4 linked regions of the Homo sapiens genome follow. The protein of the gene in region 3 interacts with the protein of the main gene of each other region in a biochemical or structural test. Each region holds a gene or a part of one and is shown on either strand. Other genes may lie near its edges. The genes, in order: UBE2K, PTTG1, ANAPC11 and UBE2S.

Evidence for each region.
Region 1: the proteins of ANAPC11 (region 3) and UBE2K form a complex in vitro, tested with the Homo sapiens proteins (3 studies listed by BioGRID).
Region 2: of the proteins of ANAPC11 (region 3) and PTTG1, one has a biochemical effect on the other in vitro, tested with the Homo sapiens proteins (3 studies listed by BioGRID).
Region 4: the proteins of ANAPC11 (region 3) and UBE2S form a complex in vitro, tested with the Homo sapiens proteins (31 studies listed by BioGRID).

What each region holds. Positions count from the first base shown.
Region 1 is NC_000004.12:39,735,931-39,743,499, reverse strand, and holds part of UBE2K (ubiquitin-conjugating enzyme E2 K), read right to left. Parts: intron 6,081-7,569; coding exon 5,987-6,080; intron 1-5,986. UniProt on the Homo sapiens protein: Accepts ubiquitin from the E1 complex and catalyzes its covalent attachment to other proteins. In vitro, in the presence or in the absence of BRCA1-BARD1 E3 ubiquitin-protein ligase complex, catalyzes the synthesis of 'Lys-48'-linked polyubiquitin chains.
Region 2 is NC_000005.10:160,417,904-160,425,347, reverse strand, and holds the start of PTTG1 (securin), read right to left. Parts: upstream 3,494-7,444; 5' UTR 3,457-3,493; intron 3,439-3,456; exon of another isoform or gene 3,047-3,438; 5' UTR 3,036-3,046; coding exon 2,945-3,035; intron 2,640-2,944; coding exon 2,455-2,639; intron 1,112-2,454; coding exon 1,018-1,111; intron 1-1,017. Other genes in the region: pre-mRNA-splicing factor SLU7, read left to right, coding at 6,295-6,325. UniProt on the Homo sapiens protein: Regulatory protein, which plays a central role in chromosome stability, in the p53/TP53 pathway, and DNA repair. Probably acts by blocking the action of key proteins.
Region 3 is NC_000017.11:81,894,603-81,901,204, reverse strand, and holds the end of ANAPC11 (anaphase-promoting complex subunit 11), read right to left. Parts: intron 1,964-6,602; coding exon of another isoform or gene 1,663-1,963; intron 1,286-1,662; coding exon 1,140-1,285; coding exon of another isoform or gene 1,055-1,139; 3' UTR 950-1,054; downstream 1-949. UniProt on the Homo sapiens protein: Together with the cullin protein ANAPC2, constitutes the catalytic component of the anaphase promoting complex/cyclosome (APC/C), a cell cycle-regulated E3 ubiquitin ligase that controls progression through mitosis and the G1 phase of the cell cycle.
Region 4 is NC_000019.10:55,404,319-55,412,717, reverse strand, and holds the start of UBE2S (ubiquitin-conjugating enzyme E2 S), read left to right. Parts: upstream 1-4,929; 5' UTR 4,930-5,128; coding exon 5,129-5,131; intron 5,132-5,755; coding exon 5,756-5,903; intron 5,904-8,239; coding exon 8,240-8,399. UniProt on the Homo sapiens protein: Accepts ubiquitin from the E1 complex and catalyzes its covalent attachment to other proteins. Catalyzes 'Lys-11'-linked polyubiquitination.

The sequences.
Region 1 (7,569 bases), on a different chromosome or scaffold from region 3:
CCCGATTAGCTGGGACTACAGGCGCCCGTCACCACGCCCGACTAATTTTTTTGTATTTTTAGTAGAGACAGGGTTTCACCGTGTTAGCCAGGATGGTCTCAATCTCCTGACCTTGTGATCCACCCGCCTCGGCCTCCCAAAGAGCTGGGATTACAGGCATGAGCCACTGCGCCTGGCCTATTCTTCTTTTTTATATATCTGAAATTCCCTGTAATAAAAAGTAAAATAAAAAACTGTGTGCTAGGAACATTATCTTCAAAATTCTATACACTCAGCTCTTCAAAAAGTCAAACAAGAGACTTTCTTCAGTATATTCTAGACTCTCTCAAATGTATCTCCTCACTCCTCCATTGTTATGAATGGATGGATGACTATGAATCTGAGGAAAAAATAAAAGTGGTACTATTTTCTTCAAGCCCTTTTTGTTTCGAATCCTTCTCTTTTTTTTTTTTTCCTGAGACAGGGTCGTTCTGTTGCCCAGGCTGGAGTGCAGAGGCACAATCTTGGCTCACTGCAACCTCCACCTTTCAGGTTCCAGCAAATCTTGTGCCTCAGTCTCCTGAGTAACTGGGTTTACAGGTGCCCACCACAATGCCCAGCTAATTTTTGTATTTTTAGTAGAGATGAGGTTTCACCATGTTGGTCAGGCTGGGCTTGAACTTCTGGCCTCAGGTGATCCGCCTGCCTCAGCCTCCCAAAGTGCTGGGATTACAGGCATAAGCCATTGCGCCTGGCCTCTCTTCTGGCTACTTTTTATTTGAGGCGGATTCTCACTCTGTTGCCCAGACTGGAGTGCAATGGTGCGATCTCGGCTGACTGCAACCTTCACCTCCCAGTTCCAGCAATTCTCCTACCTCAGCCTCCTGGGTAGCTGGGACTACAGGTGCGCGCCACCATGCCTGGCTAATTTTTTAATTTTTTTTTAAGTAGAGACAGGGTCTCAGCATGCTGGCTAAGCTGGTCTCAAACTCCTGACCTCAAATAATCTACCCGCCTCAGCCTCCCAAAGTAATGGGATTACAGGCATGAGCCGTTATGCCTCGTGGCTAGTTCTTTTTAATAGAATCCCATAGTGATTCATGCATGAGTTGAACTAAATGCCTGAATCACAGAACATATAACAATAATGAAATTTAAAGAAAAGTAGTGGAAAGAAAAAAAAAACTGACAGGTAAGAGAAGGGTACCTGAAGAAATTTTGTGACAATAACTGTCTATACCCAGAATTAGAAATGCCAGCTTCAAATATAGTTATAATAAATTTGGCTTCAGCACTACATAGGCTTTTCTTTTTCCTTCCTAAGAATTTTTTTTTTCTGATTAAACTCCAGATTAAACCATCTCTATAACCCATCATACAAAGTTCTTTGTTAATGGCCAAAATAATCTCTTAGGAGCAGTGTGAGGGCCCACAGATATTATATAAATAATGCTGGACTCGAGAGTCTCTAAAATCTTATTTCTATCCCTTATGTTACACGCTCTGACAACTTTCAATATATGACCACTTAGCATTAATCATAGCATTATTTGATCAGGGTAATACAACTAAGGAATCCTTATGATAACTATATTATTCATATTATAATAGTTTTTACTTTAAAACATTAACTTCTTGAAGAATAGCTTTTAATATTAAAAATTAACAATCTTTAAATTTAACTTAACCCAAAGAGGAGATGAGGAAGGAATGAGAATTTTTAAGCTGTCAACAATGATTCCATAAACCTAAAAGAAATTTTAGGAAGAAAAGCTCAAGAACTAAACTGTTCCTTTGTCATTGAATTATTAAGGCAAAAGAAGTGAAGAAAATTGAGTTAAGTAACATCCACAATATGGCATTTTCCCGTGAGTACTCTACTTCACAATCTGATTCTTTAAATACTACAAAAACAGCTGCCTCATTACTTAATAATGGTTATAAATTGCTTAACATTCCACATGTAAACTTTTGCTTTAGCATTTAAGTTTAGATTTTTAAAAACTCAAAAAACTGCAACATCCTTGCAATAAACATTTAACCTATCGTCACATTTAAAAGAAAAAGCATTAAAGTTTATGTCCTTGAATGGTGTTTTCCTTAACAAAATGAACTTCTCTCAATAGTTTTATATAAAATAACAGAATTCAAGTTACTCTACCTCAAATATATAAAAAGCATATTAAATCTAATCTTATCAAAATATTCATTTAGCAGCAGCAGCAGCAGAAATAAGCACTTTTTTTTTTTGAGATGCAGTCTCCCTCTGTCGCCCAGGCTGGAGTGCAGTGGTGCGATCTCAGCTCACTGCAACCTCCGTCTCATGGATTCAAGGGATTCTCCTGCCTCAGCCTCCTGAGTAGCTGGGATTATAGGCGCACGCCACCACACCCAGCTAATTTTTGTATTTTTAGTAGAGATGGAGTTTCACCACGTTGGTCAGGCTGGTCTTGAACTCCTGACCTCGTGATCCACCTGCTTCAGCCTCCCAAAGTGCTGGGATTACAGGCATCAGCCACCCCGCCCAGGCAGATATAAGCACTTTTAAATGACCAAACTTTTGGTCCCATTCTCGGTATCGGGAAAAAGAAAAGAAAAAAAATGACCAAACTTGTTTCTAACCAATAAAGAATATATCTTTTTTTTTTTTTTTTTTTTGAGACGGAGTCTTGCTCTGTTGCCCAGGCTGGAGTGCAATGGCACAATCTCGGCTCACTGCAAGCTCCGCCTCCCGGGTTCACACCATTCTCCTGCCTCAGCCTCCCAAGTAGCTGGGACTACAGGCGCCCACCATCACGCCTGGCTAATTTTTTTGTATTTTTAGTAGAGACGGGGTTTCATCGTGTTAGCCAGGACGGTCTCGATCTCCTGACCTCGTGATCTGCCCGCCTCAGCCTCCCAAAGTGCTGGGATTACAGGTGTGAGCCACCGCACTCGGCCATAAGAATATATCTTAATGTATCTTTTTTTTTTTCTTTTTGGGACAGAGTCTCGCTGTCGCCCAGGCTGGAGTGCAGCAGCGCGATCTGGGCTCACTGAAGGCTCCGCCTCCCGGGGTTCACGCCATTCTCCTGCCTCAGCCTCCCGAGTAGCTGGGACCACAGGCGCCCACCACCTCGCCCGGCTAATTAGTGTATCTTAATATATCTTAATGTATATAAGTATACATTATCCAATTAAAAAAATTAATCTACCTATTAAATATTGCTTCTATCTAATTTAGCTCAGGAAGTGCCTTGTTTATAAAAATCAATGAAAAAATTTAAAACTTTGCTGACAGACCTCTAGAATAATGTCACTGCCCTACTATCTTCCAAAAATACTTCAAAACAACCTAAAAAAAAATTCAAGAATAACTATAAGGTCTGACTTCAAGAAGAAGCTAGTATATTATTATATAAAAACATCTGCTATTAGGACAAGCATCTGATTTTTTAAAGATAACTAAAGGTCTCCTCTACATTTAATGATTGCAAAAAGGACTAAATGAAACAGCATCCATGAAAACTGCCAGACCAAGCCAAGCAGATAGGAAGCACTCGATAAACAGCATAAAAAATTAAATATCTAGAAATGGCTCGTATGAACTATAAAACAAAAAATAAAATTTTATCACTTAAGAATTGGTACAAGGTTGGGCACAATGGCTCATGCCTAGAATCCCAAGACTTTGGGACACCAAGGCAAGAGGATTGTTTTAGGCCAGGGGTTTGAGACCAGCCTCGGTAACTTGGCAAGATGCCATCTCTCCAATAAAGAAAGAAAAAAATGGGCTGGGTGCGGTGCGGTGGCTCACGCCTGTAATCTCAGCACTTTGGGAGGCTGAGGTGGGCAGATCACAAGGTCAGGAGTTCAAGACAAGCCTGGCCAATATGGTGAAACCCCGCCTCTACTAAAAATACAAAAATTAGCCGGGCATGGTGGCGGGCGCCTGTAGTACCAGCTACTCGGGAGGCTGAGGCAGGAGAATTGCTTGAACCCGGGAGGCGGAGGTTGCAGTGAGCCAAGATCGTACCACTGCACTCCAGCGTGAGAGACAGAGCAAGACTCTGTCTCCCAAAAAAAAAAAAAAAAAAAATGAATAAACAGAATTGGTATAATATGCTAAAGACATTCTAGGGTCTTAAAAAATCTGGATTAAAAACAAGAAAATATTCAAGAATATTAGATTTTTAAAAAGTGTTTTGGGTAGCCGGGCACGGTGGCTCACTCCTGTAACCCCAGCACTTTGGGAGGCCGAGGCTGGCAGATCACGAGGTCAGGAGATCGAGACCATTCTGGCTAACACGGTGAAACACCGTCTCTACTAAAAAAATACAAAAAAAATTAGCCGGGCATGGTGGCGGGTGCCCGTAGTCCCAGCTGCTCGGAAGGCTGAGGCAGGAGAATGGCGTGAATCCAGGAGGCGAAGCTTGCAGTGAGCCGAGATCGCGCCACTGCACTCCAGGCTGGGCAACAGAGCGAGACTCCATCTCAAAAAAAAAAAAGTGTTTTGGGTAACTGTTCATTACAGAATTATAGAACCACTCGAAAGTATTTAGCTGGTGGCCGGGATTGGTGGCTCACGCCTGTAATCCTAACACTTTGGGAGGCCAAGACAGGCGGATCACCTAAGGTCAGAAGTTCAAGACCAGCCTGGCCGTTATTGTGAAACCCTGTCTCTACTAAAAATACAAAAATTAGCCGGCATGGTGGTGCGCCTGTAATCCCAGCTACTCAGGAGGCTAAGGCAGGAGAATCACTTGATTCTGGGAGATGGAGGATGCAGTGAGCCAAGATTTCACCACCGCACTCCAGGCTGGGTGACAGAGAGACTCAGTCTCAAAAAACAAACAATCAAAAAATGAACAACAAAAAACACACACAAAGTATTTAACTGGATATGGTGGCATGCACCTGTAGTACTAGCTACTGAGGAAGCTGGAGGATTACCTGAGCCTAGGAATTCAAATTTATAATGAGCTATGACCATGCCACTGCTCTCCAGCTTGGGTAACAGTAAAACTTTGCATATAAAAAAATAGATAAAACAAAACAGACATCACCACCACTTCCAATATTAAGTCAATTCTGATTTACATAAAGTGATTAAAAGCACAGGCTTTGAAGACAAAGGCTATCAGTTGTGCTACTTAGATGGTTGACCTTAAACAAGTTACTTCTCTTAACTTGTTTCTTCATCTATGAAACAGCAATCGTTGTATTTACCTAGTAAGATTTGCTGAAAGGATTAAATGAGAAAATACATGTAAAGACTGTATAATTAGGGTTACCATATATTGTTATATGTTTTCTAATAAACAAATATTTGAATAGTTATTAATGCAAGAGCCTTGGTTATATGCTATATAATCTAAATTTACAGTAATATTAATTAATGAAGACTCACCTAATAAGAAAGTAAAATGCTATAAGGTTTATTTCTGTATCTTACCACCCGATTCCATGGTCTAAAGTAGCTACAGACTTAATTTGTGAACACCAAGTTCAGCAAAGCCACCTCCTTTCTATGGCTTGAAATAATCACTAAAAGCTTTCCTGAATAAAGAAAATAAACATTTGGACTACAGCCTGTATGAAGACATGAGTGAATGAAATGCTGAATGACAGAAAGAAGAACTTTAAAAACAAAAGCAACATTTTACCAATGAGATATTTAAGGCAAGGTCTGTTTTAGATACCATATGAAGGGTAACTGAGTGTCTACAGTCCATATGATTTAGAGGTTTACCATGCCAGATCTTTTATTCTATTAAATTCTAACCTATAATACCTGTAACAAAGCTCTGCTAAAACTGTTTTATGGAAAGAAAAAAATTAGCTAAAATTCAGTAAGAAATACCAGTCTATATTCAGTATCTAAATTTAGTATTTTTTAAATTGCTGTTTATCTAAACCAAATGAAGTTACCCTCCATATAATTTATAGATGTTTAAGATTATTCTGATTAAATGTTTCAGACAAGTTCTAATACGCACAATATTTTGATACAGAAAAAAGTACTTGCCTTCATATGGTGTGTCTGGAGGTCCTGCTATTTCTCCTCTTAATTCTGTAAAATTCTCATCTACAAGATCTACTTTAATTTGATTTTTGCTCGTCTTAAAAATAAACAGAAAATAAATGTTAGTTATGTCAGCAAGAAAAACGCCTAAAGTATTACCTATAAAAAATCTTGAAACCCCCTCTTTCATAAGCTTGATTATCTGCTCTAGTAAAATAAGTCTCGGCTTTTCTAGGACTTAATTATCCAGTTTTAAGAATATTTAAAACAAACTAATAAATTCTAACTTCATTGTTTTAAACGAAATAACACCACTATGAACAACAATACAATGGCTTCTTGACTTTCTAGGAATGTTATTAGGGAAAAATAGTATAAAAGCTATTTTATGTTTGCCAATTCCATGTATATCAGGCCCAAAGCGATAAATCTAATCATCCACAGATGAACACTAAGATATTATATTCTGCACTATACCCCCACGATACATGGGTTCTGCTTAAACAGAAAATTCAGGGTCATTAAAAGCCATTTAGGCCATAAACTCTCACTTGAACTAACCATAACAACTTTAAATGTTTAGTTTAACTGACTGAAATAGTACACTATCCACCAGAATGGTGAAAGCTCTAGCTACCTAACAGATTCTCCTTTCCATGAAAAATTCCAGAGGACTAAATGCCTCAAAAGAAAAGGCCTTCTTCAATTTGTTTTTCTGCTTAGTTTATTAAAACGGCAACTACCTACTTCAAAAAACCAGATTTCTACTTTAAATTTATCTACATTGACTTATTTTGCACTTTAAACTACTCCAAGTACTTTCCTATCTATAGCATTACTGAGTCTCTTAACCTTATGACAGTCCATTCTCAGAGCCATGATAACCTTAAATGATTCAGAAAACCATCCAGTGGGACTCACATTAACATTCGTAAGTGCCTGCCAGCAAATGGGCTCTCCACTTATATTCTCAAACCTATGTTAAAAATACAGTAAATCCTCTCGATTTTTTAAACCAAAATCCCTAAAGAACAGGTTACATCTTCCTTTTTTTGAGACGGAGTCTTGCTCTTGCTGCCCAGGCTGGAGTGCGATGGCACGATCTCGGCTCACTGCAACCTCCACCTCCTGGGTTCAAGTGACTCTCCTGCTTCAGCCTCCTGAGTAGCTGGGATTACAGGCACCCACTACCATGCTCAGCTAATTTTTGTTATTTTTAGTCAAGACGGGGTTTCGCCACGTTGGCCAGGCTTGTCTCGAACTCCTGACCTCGCGATACGCCCGCCTTGGCCTCCCAAAGTGCTGGGATTATAGACGTGAGGCACCGTGCCCGGCCTATATCTTCATTTTTTTTGGTTAGAATTCCATATTGTTACCTGATTGACACAACATATCTACTCTTATGTTTTTTGCTTTTAGACTGACTTTCTTAAACTTGATTACTAGATGAAACAGTGTAAGAATTACTGTCTTTGGCTTCCTCCTCCAACCCAAAAAAAAAAACCACAATTTTTACTCTTTTTCTATGTTAAATATTTTTTAGTACAGAACGTTTAGTTCATAAACAATACATGACTTAAAACCCA
Region 2 (7,444 bases), on a different chromosome or scaffold from region 3:
ATTAGCACGGATGCACCACATTTTATAATTTTAAAACTTAATCACACAAGCCCTTGAACTCAGCAATCCTTCTCAAAGTTTCCCTCCAGATGTACTCACAAACTTACAACAAGATCATTTCAAGAATACTAATCATAGAAATGTTTGTAGTTTCTAAAAGCCAGAACAATCTGAATGCAAATTAGTAAAATAACTACATGACCTCTTTGGCTAAATAAAAGGGTAAAAGATCCAGCTCAGAAATCCGTAAGGCCCTCCCTGATCTGATCCCACACCTCACCTGTATCCTCCTTTACCCTGCCTGTATTTTTCCTAGAACCACTTTAGTCTCTTTTCCTACCTCACGATCTTTGCACCACTTTGACCTACAATGCTGTTTTTTCTGGCTCACTCACAGTGAGATGACTTGTCCAGCATCTGACTTTCCCTTCAAATTATGGGCTCCCATAGGCAGGGCCCATCTTGTTAAACAGTGTGTCCAGGACCTAAGGATGCCTGACACACAGTAGCTTCTCCTGAAATGGTTGAGTAAATTAAAGCTTGAAAAGCTGTTTCCAAAACAGAAAATACTTCAGATACATGTAGCAGGTTGAAGAAATTTGAAAAACATGTCTTCACTGTCTTATGTAGATTTTTCAAACCAAAGAAATAATCCTACCAAATTACTCTCAGGCATTGCTCAACTTGACATAAAGCTCACTTCTAAAAGCCTTGTGAGAAAGACTGTCCACAATGGGACTTATTCAATGTTCATGAATACATCTTACCTCCTCTAGGTGATAAGCTTTTACAGACAGGAACAATGTCTTCTACATCTTTGTTCCTATTCCCCTCCTGACCTAAGATGATACCTTGCAAATAATTCCATCAACAAGTACACTTGTCCAAAGCAACCCAGATTCAGACAGTCTCATCATAGTTTTTGGTCATATATTATATTCATAACAAGTTACAGCTGAGCTGAATACTAAGAAACTAAAGGCCAAAAGCACTTTTCGCAATTGCAAAAGATACTACCTAGAGGATTGAAGGGAAAGAATTTTTCTATTTCTGGATAGGCATCATCTGAGGCAGGAACAGAGCTTTTTGCTTTAACAGTCTTCTCAGTCATCTAGAACAGCCAAAGAAAATATGGGTTAGTGACAGTGGAAGTCTTATTAGCTGATTAGTTTTTAAATTTGTCAATTTCATGCTGCCTTCTAAGAAGCCATAATCCTTAGTTTTCATAATTGCACCTAAATATACTTCAAATAATATGATTCAAATGTAATTCGAGTAGCATGACTCAAAAGTTAAAATCTGAAATTTAAGTACCAGCACCTGTCAGCATAAGTGATCAAGAATGCAGTTAATTCAGAGCTAATCAATGCAATTATTCAACCTAACAGAGGAGAAAATGGGCATGAATCACCCAGGATAGTAGCTAATCATCAAAGCCATTTTTGGCTTATAGGAGTGTGATTTTTTCCACAAGTGTTACCTTAAATTATTTGCTTGGTTAATATTAAAAACAAGTTTGTGTTCCTCAAATACACACACTGAGTAAGAGGCAGCAAGACACTGTCAAGGACTTTAGAATAAACACCATGGGCAATCTTCTAGTCTGGAGTTGACAGGTCTACTACAGTCTACTATAGAAGGGTGCTACAATGGAAGCCGGCATGTTCCTGCTTTATCTCACCTCACATATGCATGCCTAGAATTCCCTATGGGGTTCTCACACTTCGGTTCTGTGTCTCATTGTTTTTGCCATGTCTTTGCAATTCCTGTATTTAATATTTTTCTTTAAGTTAATTCACTTTTTAAAGAAGACATCTTTGTCCTAAGTTGCACTATATGTAATTCACTAGTTGTTTCCTAATGCAAATTAAACAAAACAGTTATTCAAATAAAGTGTTAATCCACATGCTAATGTCATCTTTCACAGCAAAGTCCTCTCATCTGGGATACACAGACCTGTAGCTTGTGACTCACACTCACACGAAGATCAACATGCTAGCAAATTGTCACCTAACAAGCTGCTGCTTGCCCTGGAAGGCTAAGAGAATGGCAGCACCTGTGCTATTAAAGCAGCAACAGAACCTCTTAAGGCACCCTCTCTCTCAGTATGTATCTGTAAGTGGATACCACCAACCAGTTTCTCTTAAGGCACCCTCTCTCTCAGTATGTATCTGTAAGTAGACACCACCAACCAGTTTCACGACACTAGTGAAGGACAGGTGAGGCAAAAATATGCATGAGGCAAAAATATGCATTAGCTGCATCTGAGATTTCCAATCTCAAGGTACCAAGAAGTCCACAAGGACAATCTGAGTCTCCTCCACTACTCTGCTTGCTAACCTCTATTTCCCTTCTACTCAGAGGGAAGAAAGCTACGTAGGATGATGCCAATAGTCATTTTAAGAGTCAAAAGTGCTTAAGTGTTTAAACAGTGTCTTTATAGCCAACACTTACCTTTTTGGCAGAAAAGCTTGGCTGTTTTTGTTTGAGGGGTCCCTTGGTCTTTACAGACTTTTCTGTAGCTCTGTTGACAGTTCCCAAAGCCTTTCTAGTAGCTTTAGGTAAGGCTGGTGGGGCATCGAACGTTTTGCCAAAACGTGGTGTTGAAACTTGAGATCTCCCATCTAAGGCTTTGATTGCTGAAGAAAAAGTCTTACCATAAGAATATTCCAGCAGCAAAATACCTGTACAACTTAAATACTGTGTATATAAACTTGACCTCTCACCCCCAAACCCACCCCCCACTTTTGGTAGTGGCATGGCTATGATAGGCCTAATAGCAGAGATTCAGTAACTTCCTTAAATCATCTCATTAAGATATTAAAAATGAAAAAGGACCAATAACAAACGACTCCAATTGCCCAAAAAGTACACTAAATGTCTCGTCCAGCTCCAGGCCACGTCCACAATACCAGTGTATCCGACTGCAGCCTTGTATACTTACAAGGTCCAGACCCCAGCTTCAGCCCATCCTTAGCAACCACACGGGTGCCTGGTTCTCCATTTTCCTTATCAACATAGATCAGAGTAGCCATTCTGGATTATTCTAAGAATGAGAAATACATATTAGATATTGGGGAAGGTGGGAGAAGCAAAGGTATAGCAACATACCAAACTTTCTATCCTAGGAGTGTCCACACAAAAAACAAGAGCTAAACAGCGGAACAGTCACGGGCGTGAGCCAACAAGTACTTAATCCAGCTCTCAAATCTTCCAGCCTGAGTCAGAGGCTCTAAGGTCCCGAGCAGCGCGCGGTTTGGGGCTGGCACTCATCAGACAGTTGCCGTTGGTCCAGTTAGCAGTCCGAGACCACGCTCAAACGGGCTCGGAGCCATCTAAGCCCCGGGCAGTCCCCCAACCCCAGCCCCAGCTTCAGCCCCAGCCGCAGCCGCAGCCCGCCTCCTTCCCCGCCGGAGCCGGCTCAACTAACCACCCGCGACCCTCCCATTCACTCACGCAGGTCTTAACAGCCGCATTCATCTGAGGCCGCGGTGAACGGACGCGGCGCACTCCTGGTTTAAACCACAACTCGCGGCCCAATTGGCTCTTCCGCCCAGGAGGCGGGGCCGTGGGCGTGGTCACCAAGTAGAACCAATGGAAAGGACCTAAGCAGCCAGGGCTCCGCCCCAAAAGCTCTTTCTTGCAAACTTTGTGGCACGTTTTCTGGGAAGAAAAAACTAGGATCGTGTAATATTAAAAAATAAATCGAGAGGCTTTTTTTTTTTGCTCTCCATATTATTAAGCTGCATGGACTGAGGTACTGACTCAATAACAATGGTTTATTGCTTTAAGATATTTTTATTTAGATGACCCTGTAAAAAGGATGGAAAATAAATAGAAATATTGAAGAAATAGGGGAAACAACCAATGTTGGGTCTAAAGAATACTAGCAGAGAAGAATTTAAAATTAAGAAGAAATGTAAGTACAGGTAGATCAAACAGCAGCGTTTGAGTCATTCTCTTATGCTTATGATTAAGAACGAACTGATCGTTCCCTAATCTTAGGACTATCCTCAATACTTCAGGCTAAGACACTGTTTCTATTATACCATCACGAATCTGTCTTAGGAACAAAATTATGATTCTAATGAATACATAATTTAGTCTTCCCTTAAAATTCTATCCTTTGATAGTGATTTATTTTAAACCTCTAACATCTCAATAATATATTAACCAAAGTTGCCTGGAAGGGCTTGGCCAGGGAGCAAGAGAATATCAGAGAGATAATAAAGATATAAAAAAGGAATTCCAATTTCCCAGATATGAAAAGAAATTTTGCTTGAAAAAGTTGACGACCTTTTCCTGTTTCTATAGTAAAATGGAATACATTGAACAACTACAAGATGAAGATATAAATTAAAACATAAGGCTGACCTGTGTCATTCAAACTCCGCTTCCCACAGTTCACCATATATGCATTTTAAGCTGCAGATCAGCTGAGAGAGAGGAGTTGATTCCATATTACTCTTTCACGAAAGGCTTGACACTATACCTGACATAGACATGGTTCTCAATATATGCCAGTTCATCATCTCTTTTTCCCTGGCATTTCAGGACCAATATTGATTGAATGATTCATTCATTCACAAATATTTATTGAATACCTATTAAATGCTGGACATTATACTAGGTTATAAGAAAAGAGCCTAACTTAAGGTGAAGAAAAGAGGAAAGACAGAAAAATATGCATACCTTTATTGTCCCTTCACTGTTCTTTTTCCTTTATCCCCATCCTTTATTTCCTCCTGTATCTCCTAAATTTTACATCATCATATTATATTATCAGCACTCAAAGTGTTAATTTTTAAGACTAAATCTGCACAACACCTATAGCTTCCAAGTGGGGATTCTCTATCTACAGAGGTTTTGAGGTGCAAGGTTTGTCTTAGGATGTCTTCTTTTTTTCACCAACAGAAAGCATTGTTTCTCCTAAGGTCATGCAGCAGCTGTAAACCATAACCACCCTCTCTGAATAACCACTGTTTTCTTACTAATGATGCCCTCAGACCAGCTTTGCTATTCCTATTACTGGAAATACTCAATTGCTAAACCACCCTCACTCATAACAGCACTTAGTCCCTAATCAGTTTCTCCCAATCCTTCTTTACAAACAGCAACCCATCCAGAACCAATCCCGGCTTTCCTAGACCTTCCTCAGAACCCTCCAGAGGGACCTCAAGTCTTAGAAAAGATTCAACTGTCTTGTCCTGCGCTTTCTGATTCCTCTTCGAGATGCGCTCTCCTGGTGGTTTTGGCTAATTAGGCCTTAACACTCCTAAGCAAATTTCAGGAATATTTTTAAGTGGAAAAAAACAAAGCCTGAGTGATTCATAGACTCTATTCACTTTCACGCTAGTCTCTGACACTGTTTCTTCATCTACTGCCCTGTAAAAGCAAAATTAATATTTATGTTCCTAAACTCCAGGTATTGCAAATTCTTAATACGAAAAAAATAGATTCTATTATGTTGGGCTATTTTATTGAGGCAGGAATGGTAGCTACTTTTACTTTTACATTCAAAAAGGATACACGTTATGGGGGGGAGGGGGAGAACAACCAGAATAGAAAGCACAAAGAAAAAAAAAAATCACAAGAAATTCTACCACGAAAATTAGTTTATTTTCCAGTGTTTTATTTCACATGTATACTTTTAAAGAAGGGATGGGATAGCATAGATACTGTTTCTCCAAAATGGAAATTGTCGTATTTTTTTCTAATGATAACATGCCTTATGTTCTCACAGCACCTGGTATTCTTTTCATAGCAACTTTTCACAGCTGCTAAATCTGAATAGTTGTTTCGGTGTCTTTCGCACTCTGATGTAAATCTGAGGGAAGACACTGTTCACCAAATCCCCAGCATGTTACACAGCCTGGCTACTAATTAGTGCCAAGTTTAACTGCTTTTTTTTTTTTTTTAAGCTGATACGTCACCAACTTCCCCATTCATTTCATAGTCCCCTGGTGAGGCTTAAGCTCTTGTCTGTTCTGGTCTTTTTTTTTTTTTTTTAACTTCCTAAAATTCTCCGATTCTAAAAGAAAGCTCCTAAATAGAAGCCAAAAAGTAGCCGCCCAACTTGAAACTCCCCACAAGCCGGGTAAATAGCGCGATACGCAGCAGCTAGAGTTCTCGCGTTTCCCACGGCGCAGGAGCACTGGAGGGCCCCCCTCCGCCCCCGGCCCCGCCAGGAAATTAGTGCGCATGTGCCGGTCATCCGGAAGTTACCGCAGTGGCCGCCGGAATTAGGCGAAAAGCCGGAAGTAAACATTACGAGATTGGCTTGGATTCTGTCGGATGGACTTGGGGCTAGCTGCGGCGGGGCTGGGTAAGAAAATATTGTTAGAACTTGCGGGCGACGGGGAGTTGGGGAACCTGAGAAAATGAGTCGAAGGCTCCTAATTATTGGATATATCTTCACGGGGGTGATGAGCCCTCAGGTGTTGAGGGAGCGAGGACGGGGGACCGAAAAGCCACTGTCCTGAGACCCATTCATGGCACTCGTGCCCTGCCAGGCCAGGCCTGCGTCTTCAGGGAAACAGTCGGGATAACTATGAGAGTGTCGCCTTTGTGGCGGTGCCTCGAAGACCTTGAGCAATCCCCGGACTGCGAGCAGGGAAAGCTGCTTCCAGTACCCAAATTGACAGACTGTATTTCCTCGCCAGAAAAATTTACTTGAGCTTCAGTTTTTCCTGTTAAGTCGAGATGATCCGACTTCAGTGGGGTATCATGCGGGTATAAATGAAAACATCTATGTAAGTAAAGCGCTAAACAGTGTCTTACGTAAGCCCTCAGTAAGTGGGAGCTATTACTGTTTTTAGTTGGAGAAAATAGGTCCCTCCACAGCGACGGAAACTAGTGCGTACAACTTGGTGACTATAATACTTTATTCAGTTTTAGTTTTTAATATTTTAGGCCCAGAAGCCAATGTTCTGTGGACAAGTATAACATACTGGTTTAGAGAACTGACTTTGGAGTCAGAGTTGTGTTTGAAGTCCTTATTTCTTACTACAATGTGTTCTTGGCTGAGGATCTTACCTCTCAGAACCTGTTTCTTCACTGTAAAATGGTGTTCATCAGACCTATCTACTGGGCTTATTGTGAAGATTAGATGAGGTGATACACGGTAGGCTCGAGAAATGGTAGCTGTTTTAATAAAGATTAAATTTACCGTTGTTGTGCTTCTCTTCGCAGTATATTTAGGCCATCAGTTTATATGTTACACAAATATATGTGGAGGTTTTCTATAGGTCAGACATAGAAGAGAACACCTTTGAGAAGCATCGTAGACCCCCAGGCATTGAGCACTTTCCACTGGGAAAGAGCTTGTGTAAAGGCCCAGTGTCTACAGGGAGCACGGTTTGTTAGAGGAACTAGAGGAACTACAAGAAGGTCTATGTAGTTAGTAGAGAAGGAAGCGGGGATAGTTGTAATGGTGAGGCTGGAA
Region 3 (6,602 bases):
TTCCCGCCCTCGCACGTCGGCCTCCAGGTTCTTCAGCTTTTGGACTCTCGGACCTACACCAGTGGCTTGCCAGGGGCTCTGCAGCCTTTGGCCACAGGATGAAGGCTGCACTATCGGCTTCTCTACTTTTGTTTTGGGACTCAGACTGGCTTCCTTGCTCCTCACCTTGCACATGGCTTATTGTGGGACTTCACCTTGTGATCACGTGAGTCAATACTCCCAATAAACTCTTCATATATACTCTTCATATAGAGTCCTGTCTCTCTAGAGAACCCTGACACAGATTTCAGGTGAGGCCTGGTCTACTCCTCAGGTTGCTGTGAGGAAGGGTCAAGAGACACTGGGCACGGGTCACTGGCCCCATGAATGCCAAGGGCTCCCTAGGTTACTGGAGACACAGCCTGTGCTCTGTCCAGAAGCAGCCTGAGATGCCGGGGCTGCCACTCCCCCAGCGGCCCCTTCCCACCACGATTGTGGGGAGCAGAGGCACACAAAGGAGCCTCCCAGGGCCACCTTTCCCTAGGAAGGGAAGCCTCAGACGTGTGGACACACTTCCCAGTGTCAGGACACTGATCCCTACACTGTGGGAGGCCCAGCCCCGCTGCAGACAGTCCCAGTGAGAACAATGGACGCCCACTCAGAGATGGTGGCCTTCAGTCTGGAGGCGCCACAAGCAGTGGCCGCCAGCTTTGCACAGCCAGGGTCCCTCAGAGCCAGCCTGAGGGAGGGTCCCAGGGCCGCCGCCGGCAATCCAGCAGGCAAGAGCATGCCTGAAGAGCATGCCCCAGGCTCTACCGTCTGATCCTGCTCCTTCTCCTCCCAGTCATGACTCAGGGTTTGACGAGGGCCTTGGCGTTTCACGGAGATGTTTATTCATGAGAGTTTTCATATCAAAACACACCGAGACCACATCTATATGCCGAGAACACAGGCACCCAGAGGCCTCCAGCAAGATTTGAGTAGTTTAATGAGTTTTCACTTATTGGATAAAAGTGTCAACATAGTGATGGCAAAACAAACGCAGCTCCAGCCCTTGTTTCCACCTTGTTGCAGCTCAGGGGCGCTGTCCCCAGCAGCCATCGGCGCCAGCATGAGGAAGGAGTCTCAGGATGCCCCTCCAGCGAGAGCCAGGTCGGGCCTCACTCCTTGAACTTCCATTCCTGGCGGCACATGGGGCAGTGCTGCTGCACCTGCTGTGCGTGCAGCCACTTGAGGATGCAATGCATGTGGAAGCAGTGGGAGCACTGGCCCCACACCAGCGGGCAGTCGTCGCCGGGCACCTTGCCTACGGAGGGGAGGTGGGGAAAAGGACAGGCATGACCAGGCTGGACACAGAGCATGTGACAAGCCAGGCAGGGGTGCAGGTAGGGACCCTGGGCAGTGGCTCCAGCACTGCAGCCTCTCATGTTTCAGAGAAGCCGAAATCAGGAGTGTTACCCAATCGGTCTCCTGACCAGCCCGCCCCCAGGCGAAGACCAGCAATGACCAAGGGACACCGGACATGCGGCCTCCACCCGGGGCAACCGCAGCAGGCGCCTCCCCTCACCCAGGCTCATCATGCTCAGTGGGGAGCCCAGGGGCCTCTCTGAGGAGGTGGCGCTCTGGCCTAGCCCACCCTGTGTCCCCTGTGCTTGAGGCTGGGGAAAAAGGGCAATGTCTGACCTACAGGCCCTGGGCCCATCTGCAGACACTTGATCTGTGATGCCAAAAAGGTCACATGAATGGTCAAGGCACCAAGGAGACGTGCATCTGAGTAGTGAACTGGTCTCTTGATCAAGGGCAGGAGGGGTGGGGTCTGGGGACCTAGAAGACTCTTCCCTAGACATCAGGGATCCGGTGTGCTGCCCAGGCGTTGGGGAAGCTGTGTTGATGGGCACCTGTGGATGGGCCCTGCCTCCCAGGACAGGCACAGGCTGCGGGCACCAGCCCAAACACCTAGAAATGCTTTCTCCATGGAGAGGACCTGACACAGAGAGGGATGCTTGTATCAGCCATGATCAAGAGAAATGAGTGTCCCTGATCTCCAAGAGCCTGGAAACCCCTGAGGAACAGCTGCTGCCAACAGAGCACAGCAAGTCCCAGCCCCAGCCCCACGGCAGGGTCGGCCTGGCATTGTGGAGCTGGAGCTCGTGGCCACCCTCCTGTCCTGGCAGCGCCGGCCCCACGGCATGCCCACTCCCAGCCCTGGGAGGACCTGCCCGTGGGGGTTTCTGGCCTCAGCACAACTCTGCTTGATATCGGCCCTTTCAAATGAGAGCTGAAGCCTGCTAGCCCCCTGAGGAGAGGGGTCTGGGCCACTCTGAGTACTCGGGGGAGGCCTCGTTTAGTCAAAGGTGTCACTTCGTTCTAGTGCATTCCCCACCCGAAGCCGGCCTGGGGTGTCTGATGAGTCCGCAGATGCACTGAGGGTGACTCATTCCAGGACCTGCTGGTCTCCTGATTGCATTTTTTTAAATTAAAACTCCTCTCGGCAAAACTGCACTGCCACCAGAGTCCCCTGGGATGCGGGATGGACTCATTGTTTACCAGCCTCGGGCTCCCACGGTCTTTGTTGAATGAACTTAGTCACTCTGAATTTTTCACAGGAGTTCAATTTTAGCAAAAGAAACCTGGTGCTGCTTAGTATGGAAGCACATTGGACTCGTCAAACGCTTTGCGCGTTAACACTGACTCACTATGACTTAACCATCAGCAGGTCCAAAAATTAGACTCTCAACTCCTGAGTCTCTGCAGCCAACAGGCCCCATGTTAACAAAGCCTGAGCACACTGTGTCAGCGGAGACATGCTGAGTGTTCAGGGCAACACCCTCTGGATGCCCCATCACAGGCCCAGCTGGCATGCTGCAGGGCGGGCTCTGCAGGCTGCCTGTGGACCCACCACTGCAGTCACTTGGGGGCTACCTAGCACCACCTCTAATCCACAGGATTCACCACCCACATCTGGCCCACGGATGCAGCCAGACGAGGTGTGGACACATGGTTCGGAGGAATTTCAGAAGTTAAGCTGCTGCTCCAGAAGTCGAATGCCTGCCCTCAGGGCATCCCACGCACTCTTTGTTACATCCTTAAGAGCAATTTAAAAGAGATCAAATAAAACTGTGCCTTGTGAATTTAGTTATTAACCTAATTAGCTATTAACTACAAATCCAATCAGGTAGAGTCAATCAATAATTTCCTAAGATTACACCCTACCCGTTTGATTAAATGAGGATTAATTCCTGAGTGATGAGATTTCTATTTAGCTAGGGCCAATGTAAAAGTTAAGCCTAGAATAAAAAGTATTTGTACGGGCCAGGCGCCACACCTATAATCCCAGCACTTTGGGAGGCTGTGGCAGGACAGAGCCAAGAGTTTGAGACCAGCCTGGGAAACATAGTGAGACTCCATTTCCACAAAAAAAATTAAAAATTTATGTAGTTTTGTTCAGGCATGGTGGCTCACGTCTGTAATCCCAGCACTTTGGTATGCCAAGGCAGGCAGATCCCTTGAGCCCAGGAGTTCAAGACTAGCCTTGGCAACATAGCAAAACCCTGTCTCTACAAAAAATAAAAAAATAAAAAATTAGCCAGGCATTGTGGAGCATGCCTGTGGTCCCAGCTACTTGAGAGGTGGAGGTGGGAGGATCACTTGAGCTGAGGAATTGAAGGCTACAGTGAGCTATGATTTTGCCACACTGCACTGCCGCCTGGGTGACAGCAAGACCCTGTCTCAAAAAAAAAAAATTGTACTAAGATTCAGTCATCTCAATTTCACCTTAAGAAGCAAAGACAGGGGCGGGTGCAGTGGCTCACACCTGTAATCCTGGTACTTTGGGAGGCCGAGGTGGACGGATCACCTGAGGTCAGGAGTTTTAAGACCAGCCCGGCCAACATGGTGAAACCCTGTCTCTGCTAAAAATACAACAAGGGCTGGGCGCAGTGGCTCATGCCTGTAATCCCAGCACTTTGGGAGGCTGAGGTGGGCGGATCACGAGGTCAAGAGATCGAGACCATCCTGGCCAACATGGTGAAACCCCATTTCTGTTAAAACTACAAAAATTAGCTGGGCATGGCGGCGAGCGCCTGTAGTCCCAGCTATTCGGAAAGCTGAGGCAGGAGAATCACTTGAACTAGGGAGGCGGAAGTTGCAGTGAGCCAAGATCGTGCCACTGCACTCCAGCCCTGGTGACAGAGTGAGACTCTGTCTCGAAAATAAATAAATAAATAAAAATAAAAATACAACAAATTAGCTGGCTGTGGTGGTGCATGCCTGTAATCCCAGCTACTTGGGAGGCTGAGGCCGGAGAATCCTTTGAACTCAGAAGGGTGGGGGTTGCGGTGAGCTGAGATGGTGCCATTGCACTCCAGTCTGAGCAACAGGGCAAGACTCTATCTCAAAAAAAAAAAAAAAAAAAAAAAAAAAAAAAAGCAAAGGAGGCAGATGAGTGTGGTGGTATGCTACTTGGGAGGCTGAGACAGTAGGATGGCTGGAGCCCAGGAGTTCACGTCCAGCTTGGGCAACACAGTGAGACCCTGTCAATCAATATGGGCATGCACCTGGCCCTACAAAAATACGCCTGGTTACTTGGGGTAGTGAGTAGCTTCTCGGTCCTCCCCATTCCCCACTGTCCTCTCCATTCCCCACTGTCCTCTGGGGAGTTCTTCTTGTCCTCCCTGGGCAAAACCTTGACCCTTGCTTCTGCTTTACGCTCATTTCGGTCTCATGAAAAACCATTTCGCTGATGCAAAACTCTGCTTTCAACCTAAACATAATCAAACATTTCCACTTTTTTTCTTTTTTTTTGAGATGGAGTTTCACTCTTGTTGCCCAGGCTGGAGTGCAATGGTGCGATCTTGGCTCACCACAACATCTGCCTCCCAGGTTCAAGCGATTCTTTTGCCTCAGCCTCCTGAGTAGCTGGGATTACAGGCATGCACCACCATGCCCGGCTACTTTTTTGTATTTTTAGTAGAGACGGGATTTTACCATGTTGGCCAGGCTGGTCTCAAACTCCTGACCTCAGGTGATCCATCCACCTCGGCCTCCCAAAGTGCTGGGATTACAGGCACCTGCCACCATGCCCGGCTAATTTTTTTGGATTTTTAGTAGAGTCGGGGTTTTGCCATGTTGGCCAGGCTGGTCTCGAACACCTGGCCTGAAGCAATCCGCCTGCCTTGGCCTCCCAAAGTGGTGGGATTACAGGTGTGAGCCACTGCGCCTGGCCTATGCCATTCAATTTTGAGAATTTTCAAATAAAAAGTTTAAACTAATCTTTTTTTTGTTTGTTTTTTGAGATGGAGTCTTGCTCTTGGCTCACTGCAACCCCCGTCTCCCAGGCTCAAGAGATTCTCCTGCCTCAGCCTCCCCAGTAGCTGGGATTACAGGCACACGCCACACACCCAGCTAATTTTTGTATTTTTAGTAGAGATGGCGTTTCACTATGTTGGCCAGGATGGTCTCAATCTCCTGACCTTGAGATCCATCCACTTCAGCCTCCCACAGTGCTGGGATGACAAGTGTGGGCCACCACACCCTGCCTTGATCTCTTGACCCTGTGATCTGCCTACCTTGGCCTCCCACAGTGCTAGGATGACAGGTGTGAGCCACCGTGCCGGCCTCCATCTCTTGACCTTGTGATCCGCCCGCCTCGGCCTCCCACAGTGCTGGAATAACAGGCGTGGGCCGCCATGCCGGCCTCCATCTCTTGACCTTGTGATCTGCCCGCCCAGACTCTAATCTCTTTTTAATCCCACGTATTTCACAGCTGAGTTTCATCCTATGGAGTCTGTGACAGGATCTTTATATAAACATGGGTACCAACCACCTGGCTTTTTTTCTATCAACTTTTCTTCATGAGATGAAAATGAAAATGTTGGGGGGGGCACGGTGGTTCGCGCCTGTAATCCCATCCCTTTGGGAGGCTGAGGCGGGTGGATCACCTGAGGTTGACAGTTCGAGACCAGCCTAACATGGAGAAAGCCTGTCTCTACTAAAAAATACAAAATTAGCCGGGTGTAGTGGCACATGCCTGTGATCCCAGGTACTTGGAAGGCTGAGGCAGGAGAATCGCTTGAGCCCAGGAGGCGGAGGTTGCAGTGAGCCGAGATCGCGCCATTGCACTCCAGCCTGGGCAACAAGAGTGAAACTCCATCTCAAAAAAAAAAAAAAAAAAAAAGAAAAGAAAGAAAGAAAAGAAAATAAAAATGTGGGCCAGGCAAAGTGGCTCACACCTGTAATCCCAGCACTTTGGAAGGCTGAAGCGGGCAGGTCACCTGAGGTCAGGAGTTCAAGGCCAGCCTAGCCAACAAGGCAAAACCCCGTCTCTACTAAAAATAAAAAAATTAGCCCAGCATGGTGGCACATGCCTGTAATCCCAGCTGCTTGGAAGGCTGAGGCAGGAGAACCGTTTGAACCCGGGAGGCAGAGGTTGCGGCAAGCCGAGATCGCGCCATTGCACTCCAGCCTGGGAAACAAGATCGAAACTCGGTCTCAAAAAAAAAAAAAAAAAAAGAAAATGAAACTGGGTATTTCGTGCAGGTATTTAACAGGAGCTACTGAGGCTAGTCCAGCAGGCAGCAGACAGCACAGAGGGGACACTCACAGTCGGGGCCGCTCAGACAGCA
Region 4 (8,399 bases), on a different chromosome or scaffold from region 3:
AGATCACACCACTGCACTCCAGCCCAGGTGACAGTGCGAGATTCAGTCTAAAAAAAAAAAAAAGAATAATGGCCATCCAAGTTGCTGAGAATGCCATTATTTCATTCTGTTTTCTGTTTTATGGCTGAGTAGTATTCCATGGTGTATATATACCATATTTTCTGTATCCACTCATTGGGTGATGATGGGCATTTAGGTTGGTTCCGTATTTTTGCAATTGCAAATTGTGCTTCTATAAACATGCATGTGTATGTGTCTTTTGCATATGATTTCTTTTCCTCTGGGTAGATACCCAGTAGTGGGATTGCTGGATCGAATGGTAGATCTACTTTCAGTTCTTTAAGGAATCTCCACACTGGTTTCCATAGTGGTTGTACTAGTTTACATTCCCACCAACAGTGTAAAAGTGTTCCCTTTTTACCACATCCATGCCAACATCTATTTTTTTTTTTTTTTAATTATGGCCATTCTTGCAGGAGTAAGGTATTATCTCATTGTGGTTTTAATTTGCATTTCCCTGATAATGAGTGATGCTGAGCAGTTTTCATATGTTTGTTGGCTGTTTGCAATATCTTCTTTTGAAAGAATTGTCCATTCATGTCCTTTGCCTACTTTTTCATTGGATCATTTTTTTTCTTGCTGATTTGTTAGAGCTCCTTGTAAATTCTGGATATTAGTCCTTTGTCAGATGTATAGCTTGCAAATATTAAAATAATGGCAAAAACCTCGATTTATTTTGCACCAACCTTAATATAAGGTGAGCGATGAGGATCCAGTTTCATTTTTCTACATGTGGCTTGCCAGTTTCCCCAGCACCATTTATCGGGTAGGGTGTCCTTTCCCCATTTTATGTTTTTGTATGCTTTGTTGAAGATCAGTTGATTATTGTGGCATGAGAGCAGAGGAAAAACATGGTTAACAGAGAGTATTCCCTACCTACCACAACATGTAGTTCCTTCTAAAATACCATGTTTTCCTTATTTATTATGTTTCATTTTTGGTTCTGTCTTCCTCAACTACAGTAAGCCCTTTGTCTATCTGTTATCTGATGCATCCCAAGGACAAAGATCTTTGTCTATCTGATCTCTGATAAATCCCAAGCACCCAGATTGGTGCCTGGCACATAGTAGGTGCTCAATAAATATTGGTTGAATGTATAACATCTTCAGTCTGTCTGGCGCCCTGCTAGGGACTGAGGACAAGATCCCTGCTCTGCTGGGGCTAATCTTCTAGTTGGGAAGAGTCAAACACACAATCAGGCAAATAATTGCAAATCCTGATAGATCATGAAGTTCAAAGAGGATGAAGCAAAGAGAGCATGGGAGGGGAGGAAAGAGGAGAGAAGCTGCCGTGAAGGGGTGACGAGTTAGGGTAAACCTAGGAGATGAGAAGAAGGAAAGGGGAAAAGCACGACCGGCACAGAGAACTGCCTGTCCAACTGTCCTCAGGGTAAAAAGCTTGGCGTATTCCAGGAACAAACAGAAAAAGGCAAGGAAGCCTCAGGAGATGGTGCAAGGGCTTATGGGTTTTTGGGGAGTCTGGGGCTTATGCAAAATGTAGTGGGGAGGAGGACTCTTGAGTTTTCAGCTGGGGTGGGGCACGTGGGATATGTGTAAAGCAGGGAGCAAACTATAGCTCAGGGGCCTACTTTGGCCACTGCCTGTTTTTGGAAACACACCCATTAGTTTTCTTAGGAGCTACAAGGGCAGAGTTTAGTGAGTTGGACCAGAGACCAATGGACCACAGCATTGGAAAACCTTTTTGGAAAAGGTCTGCCTTCCCGGTTTTCAGGTGATTATTTAGGGTACAGGTGATCCCTCCCGCTCCCTCACCCCAAGTCCAATCTATACCAGTTGCTGTTGACATCATCTCATCACTTCCCCCATTCCTAATGCCACCAATCCTGCTTGGAGCCACCATCATCCCACCTGAACAAAGGTAATCACCTCCTCATTGGCCTCCCTGTTTCTGTTCATAAGTCTGAAGGAGTCATTCTCTGCTCAAAGCCACCAATGGCTCCCCATTGCTCAAAAAACAGACATACTTTTCACCATGGCCTAGGAGGCCCACCAGCAGCCCCTCACCTCTCCCACCTCAGAGCCCTCTACTTGCTCTGCCTCACTCCAATCCAGCCTCGCTGGCCTCCTAATGTTCCCTAAAAGCACCAAGCACAATCTTCTTGACACCTGCTGTTCCCTTTGCTCAAAATGCTTTTCCCATAGACCTTCCAACAGCCCAAATGACCTTTCCTCAGACAGATTCTCCCTGCCCAGCCAAGGTAAAATGGCAGCCCCATCCCTCCCTCTCAAACCTCCCCCTCCCACTAATTGTTCCTGTCTTTATCACTTGCTGATTGTTCTTCAGTCTTTATCACTTGCTGACATGATGGTATAGACTTACTTGCTATCTGGCTCCCGCACCAGGATGTAAGATCCATGAAAGTCGAGGCTTTGTCCCTTTTATTCTCTGCTGTATCCCATAGCATCCTGACAGCTAGAGTGTAGACACTAATAAAGAAGAACAAATGTATTGAATAAATGCAGGTATCCAGAGGGGATCATAATAATTAATAATATCCACCCATTATGGTTGTTACAAGGATTAAATGACATCAAGCATGTAAAGAAACTAGAACAGGGTCTGGCACACAGCAAATAATACATAATAACCATTAGTATTATCATCATTATTGTTATGTCTTTTGGGTGGATTTTTAAGATCAAGACGAATTTAGCCACTAGCTTTGCCTTGTCCCAGCTGGGGAACCCCGAGCAAGTCACTTTACCTCCTGCTCCTTCAGCTTCCTTGTCTGTTAATTGGGTTGGAATCCTCCACACCCAGCAGGCTAAAATTGAAGATCAGCAAAATGCTTATCGGCAAAATGGGATGACGTTGACTCTAAGCAGGACTGGTGGCATAGCGGATGGGGGGACGTGATGAGATTCAGTAGATGACGTCAACAGGAACTGGTATAGATTGGACCTGGGGTGAGGGAGCAGGAAGGGATCACCTGAAGCCATTTCTCCACAAACTAGTTATGATGATGACTTTTTATGCTGTAGCTGTTTCTTCAGTTGTTTTGGGTTTGTTTGTTTTGTACATATTGGTGGGGGTCTCTCACTATGTTGCCCAGGCTGGTCTTGAACTCCTGGGCTCAAGTGATCGACCTACCTTGGCCTCCCAAAGTGCTGGGATTATGGGCGTAGTCACTGTACCCGACCATGTAGGTTTTGTTTTTTGGTTTTTTTTTTTTTTTTGCTTTTTTGTTTTTTGAGACAGGGTCTTGCTCTGTTGCCCAGGCTGGGGTGCAGTGGCGAGATCTCAGTTCACTGCAACCTCCACATCCCGGCTTTAACCGATTCTCCCATCTCAGCCTCACGAGTAGCTGGGATTACAGGGCTGCATCAACACACCTGGCTAATTTTTGTATTTTTAGTACAGATGGGGTTTCACCATGTTGGCCAGGCTGGTCTCAAACTCCTGACCTCAGGTGATCTGCCAGCTTCAGCCTCCCAAAGTGCTGGGATTACAGGCGTGAGCTACCACGCCTGGCCTTGGCCATGTAGATTTCTTTCACACCTTCCTTATTCCTTCTTCAGAAGCTGAGGCCCCATGAGGGGAAGCTGGTAGCCAGGGGTCTTTTCAGGTACCTGTGGCCAAATTAGGCCCAGATGTTAATGCTCTCATCCATGGCTGAAAAAGGCCAAGAAACTAAGAAGAGCTGTGGACGCACAGACTGGCAGAGACACCGAGAGGGCACTGCGACCGCACTGCACAGATGAGCAAAGGAAGGCCAACTTCAGCATTCCCTCCTCCTCTCTAAGCCCCTCCAAAAGGCCTGCTCAGGGAGCTCTGGCCACCGTTCTCAAGCAATTGCCTGACGTTTTTACTGACACTGAGGGCTGGAGATGGTCCCTTTTCCAGGCAGCTATGTGTCCATTTCCTAGAGAGGGAAACTGAGTCCCAGAGAAGGCGGGTGTGGCTGGAGGCCATGGGTCAGTCATAGGCATAACCATGCCGTGAATAACCGTCTTGGCACTCTCTGACTTCTTTCCCTGGCAATACAACGGATCCCAGTGCCCATTTGTCACATAAGGAAACTGAGGCTGGCGTCTTCGATGAAGCCTGGCAGGAGTGGGGGTCACACACGGAGTGCAAGGCTGTCCAAGCCTTCAAGGTCATTCTGACTGATCTTTGAGCCTTAGCAATACAGGACGTGGGTCCAAGAGCATTTCCAGCACAAAATGGCGCCTCATAGAAAAATGTAGTCGGAGTTCCAGCGCCCACCTCCACCACGGCTCAAAGGAGGGGGCGCGGGCGGCAGCGCACACTTCATTTGCATATACAAAAATCAACGGATTTCGTTGGCTGGCAGCGGTTTGATCTGCACGAAACTGGGTCGCCCTCTGACCGGTCTCTATCAGTCATTGGCCCATGCGAGTCTCGTGACCCACCAGTCACTAAAGCGCATCCCTATTGGCCCGAGCGCCTTCCATCACGCGTTTAAAACCCCGAGTCCCGCCTCCCCTCGCCACGCTCCGGCCCCCAGGAAGACCGTTAGTCGCGTGCGCGACTTCCTCAGCGTCAGGGCGCGCCCGCGCGTATGCCGGGCCGTGGCGGCGTCTCATTCAAACGGTCCAATCAGCGGCCGCGTCGCCTTCCCCGTCCCCCTTCCTCTCTTCTTCCCCTTTTCAGCCCCTCCGTTCTTTGAGAACCCTCCCGACCCCCGCGGGCCCCCATTGGCCGGCCCGCTACCCAGCCCTCTCCGCCACTTCCCTCGCTTCTGACCATAGTTTGCGGGGAAGGGAGCGAGCGCGTCGAAAACCAAGGAACGTGCGCGCTGACGTCACGGTTGAGGCTCGGAGCTGAGGGGCCGCGGAGGGCGTGGCCTGCGGGCGGTTATAAAGAGGCAGTGGTGCGCGCGCGGCCGGCTCAGTGCTGCCGGGCACCGGGGCGGCGGGTTGGTCTACGCTGTGCGCGGCGGACGTCGGAGGCAGCGGGGAGCGGAGCGGGGCCGCCGGGGCCTCTCCAGGGCCGCAGCGGCAGCAGTTGGGCCCCCCGCCCCGGCCGGCGGACCGAAGAACGCAGGAAGGGGGCCGGGGGGACCCGCCCCCGGCCGGCCGCAGCCATGGTGAGCACGGGCGATGAGGCCCATGAAGGTGGTCGGGGGTGTCCCTGAGGGAGGAGGTGGAGTCTCAGGGGCCTCCGACGGGCGGCCTTGAGGGGTTTGAGGGCCAGCCTGGGGGTCCCTGACCCGGGATGGGCCCGAGGGCCTTCCCGCAGGCGGAGCAGGAGCTCGGGCGGCCCGCAGTCTCCCTGGCGGCGAGGGCTCCGGGCGCTTTGCGGCCCGCCCATGGGTGTTACCAGGAGCAAGGACGCCCCGCCGCCATCTCCAGACCTGAGCCGGGGTTTCAAGGATGCTCTAACCAAAAATTAGTGGAGAAGGGGGAGAGAGTAGATCTCTGGCCTACGTGGAACCACTGGGGACCAAGCAGGGTTAGGAGCGGGCTTTGGGGGGGGGGTTCTGGGGTGGGTGGAGTTATCTGCAAGCCCCCCCGTGAACCCGCCCCCATTTCTGTTGGAAACTCTGCCTGGGCTGATGGCCTGAAGCATCCTGGGTGAGGGTCTGGGAGTTCAAGGGTGATTGACAGCCTGGGGCCACTGAGTCAAGACTTGGGCAGTCTCAGCATCTTTAGGCCCTGCGGGAAGCCCAGCTCTTAACACTCGCTCACCCTGCTCTCCCATCCGTGCCCAGAACTCCAACGTGGAGAACCTACCCCCGCACATCATCCGCCTGGTGTACAAGGAGGTGACGACACTGACCGCAGACCCACCCGATGGCATCAAGGTCTTTCCCAACGAGGAGGACCTCACCGACCTCCAGGTCACCATCGAGGGCCCTGGTGAGTTTGGAAGGAAAAAGAGAAGGGGCTGCTGCTTAGATCCTCCATCACCCTGCTCTAGATCACCCTAGCGGGAAGTACCCATTACAGGCTGGCCTCGTGTCAGGTGTTGGGATGCATTGGTGGACAGGGCAGGACGCCACAAATGACAATTATGTACTCTTTTCCCACAAGGGTTGAGAAATATCTGGTCATTGAGTTAGTATATCATGGGACGGTACTCTAGATTTGAAGCAAGGCTTTCAGACATGGCTTCCCTGGACCTGAGGGTGGGTAGGAATTAAGTAGGAATGGGAAGAGAGCTCCAGGTGGTGGGAATGGTGTCAGCAAGGGCCTGGGAGGGTGGGCCAGGTGATCTCAAACTCCATCCTGCTGTGAGTGTCAGGGATGAGGAAACAAGCCAGATGCAGATCGTGGGGAGACGGGTCATGAATGATTTGCGGGTCACATGATTTGCGGAGTGATTTAGAATACTGTTTCATGCAGGCTACATTTCTGTTATCACCAGAATTCCTACAAAGTCAGGATTTGAGCAGAGCCTGTGAAGGAATGGTCTAGTCCACGGTGGTGATGGTGGTAGGTGGTCAGGAAAGACCTGGCAGCGGTGACAGTTGAGGTCCTTCATGCCTTGCTGCAGAGGGCGCGGGATCATGACAATAGGAAGGCTCCAGAAAGGCCCTTGGGCAGGTGGAGCTGGGCGCTTGGTAAAAACACATGAAGAAAGTTGATGATGAAGCTGCCAAGCTCTTTTAGGGCTTCTAGGCCTCTTCAAGGAGTTTGTAGAGGAAGCTGGTGGAAGGTTTAAAGCAGGGGTGTGACAAATCCCTCCAAAGTTCCTATTGACTGTAGTGAGGAGAGCCGGCCTGGCAGGGGGAAGAACCCAGAGGCCAGCCAGGAAGCTAGCCTTGGAGATGGGATGAGATTCAGGGGAGGACCTAGCAGGCCGGTGCTCAGGCTGCTGATGGGCTAGGGGAGGGACAGTATTTTGACCCAAGCAAGTGGGTGAGTGGGAGAGGCGTTCACTGGGTTGGGAGGCTGTGGAATTAACAGACAGTTGGATCCTTGATCTGAAAGGCATATAAATGGGCATCTTATAGGAAAGTGCGTACTTGGGTCCCTGCCACCTGGGAAGGGCCTGTGACTGGAGTGGTCAGTTGGGCTGAGACGGGGGATCCAGGAGGGTGCAGACGAGCTTGATAGTGACACAGGTGGGGGCTGCAAGATGGGCATCATCTCTGAGGTTTTGGGGGAGGTCCTGTGGCCCCCTAGGAACCCAGCCATTCTTGCTCTTTTTTTTTTCTCTCTCTAAACGGAGTCTTGCTCTGTCGCCTAGGCTGGAGTGCAATAGCACAATCTCTGCTCACTGCAACCTCTGCCTCCTGGGTTCAAGCAGTTCTCCTGCCTCAGCCTCCCAAGTAGCTGGGATTACAGACGTGCACCACCATGCCCAGCTAATTTTTTGTATTTTTAGTAGAGATGGGGTTTCACCATGTTGGCCAGGCTGGTCTCGAACTCCTGACCTTGTGATCCGCCCGCCTCAGCCTCCCAAAGTGCTGGGATTACAGGTGTGAGGCACCGCGCTTGGCTTTTTTTTTTTTTTTTTGGAAACAGAGTTTCGCTCTTGTTGCCCAGGCTGGAGTGCAGTGGCGCGATCTCCGCACACTGCAACCTCCCCATCCCGGGTTCAAGGGATTCTTCTGCCTCAGCCTTCCGAGTAGCTGGGATTACAGGCATGCACCACCACGCCTGGCTAATATTGTATTTTTAGTAGAGACGGGGTTTCTCCATGTTGGTCTGGCTGGTCTTGAACTCCTGACCTCAGGTGATCCACCCGCCTTAGCCTCCCAAAGTGCTGGGATTACAGGCGTGAGCCACCACACCTGGCCTCTTGCTCTTAAGAATTCTACAGCCTGACTGGGCATGGTGGTTCACGCCTGTAATCCCAGCACTTTGGGAGGCTGAGGTGAACAAATTGCTTGAGCCTAGGAGTGCAAGACCAGCTTGGGCAACATAGTGAGACCCTATCTCTTAAAATAAAAAAGTAGCCAGACCTGGTGGCATGCCCGTAATCCCAGCTACTTGGCAGGCTGAGATGGGATCACCTGAGCCCAGGAATTGCAGGCGGCAGTGAACTGAGATTGTGCCACTGCACTCCAGCCTGGGTGACACAAGAGACCTTATTTCAAAAAAAGAAAAAAAGAATCCTCCAGTCTGTTGGCAGAGTTGGCGGGGCACCCACCTGCATCACAATCAGACCGTGGAGACTGGACTTTGGGGTGTTGAGGTGCCTTGGGACTCCTGAGTGCCCTGACCCTGTACCCCTCCCTCCACTCCAGAGGGGACCCCATATGCTGGAGGTCTGTTCCGCATGAAACTCCTGCTGGGGAAGGACTTCCCTGCCTCCCCACCCAAGGGCTACTTCCTGACCAAGATCTTCCACCCGAACGTGGGCGCCAATGGCGAGATCTGCGTCAACGTGCTCAAGAGGGACTGGAC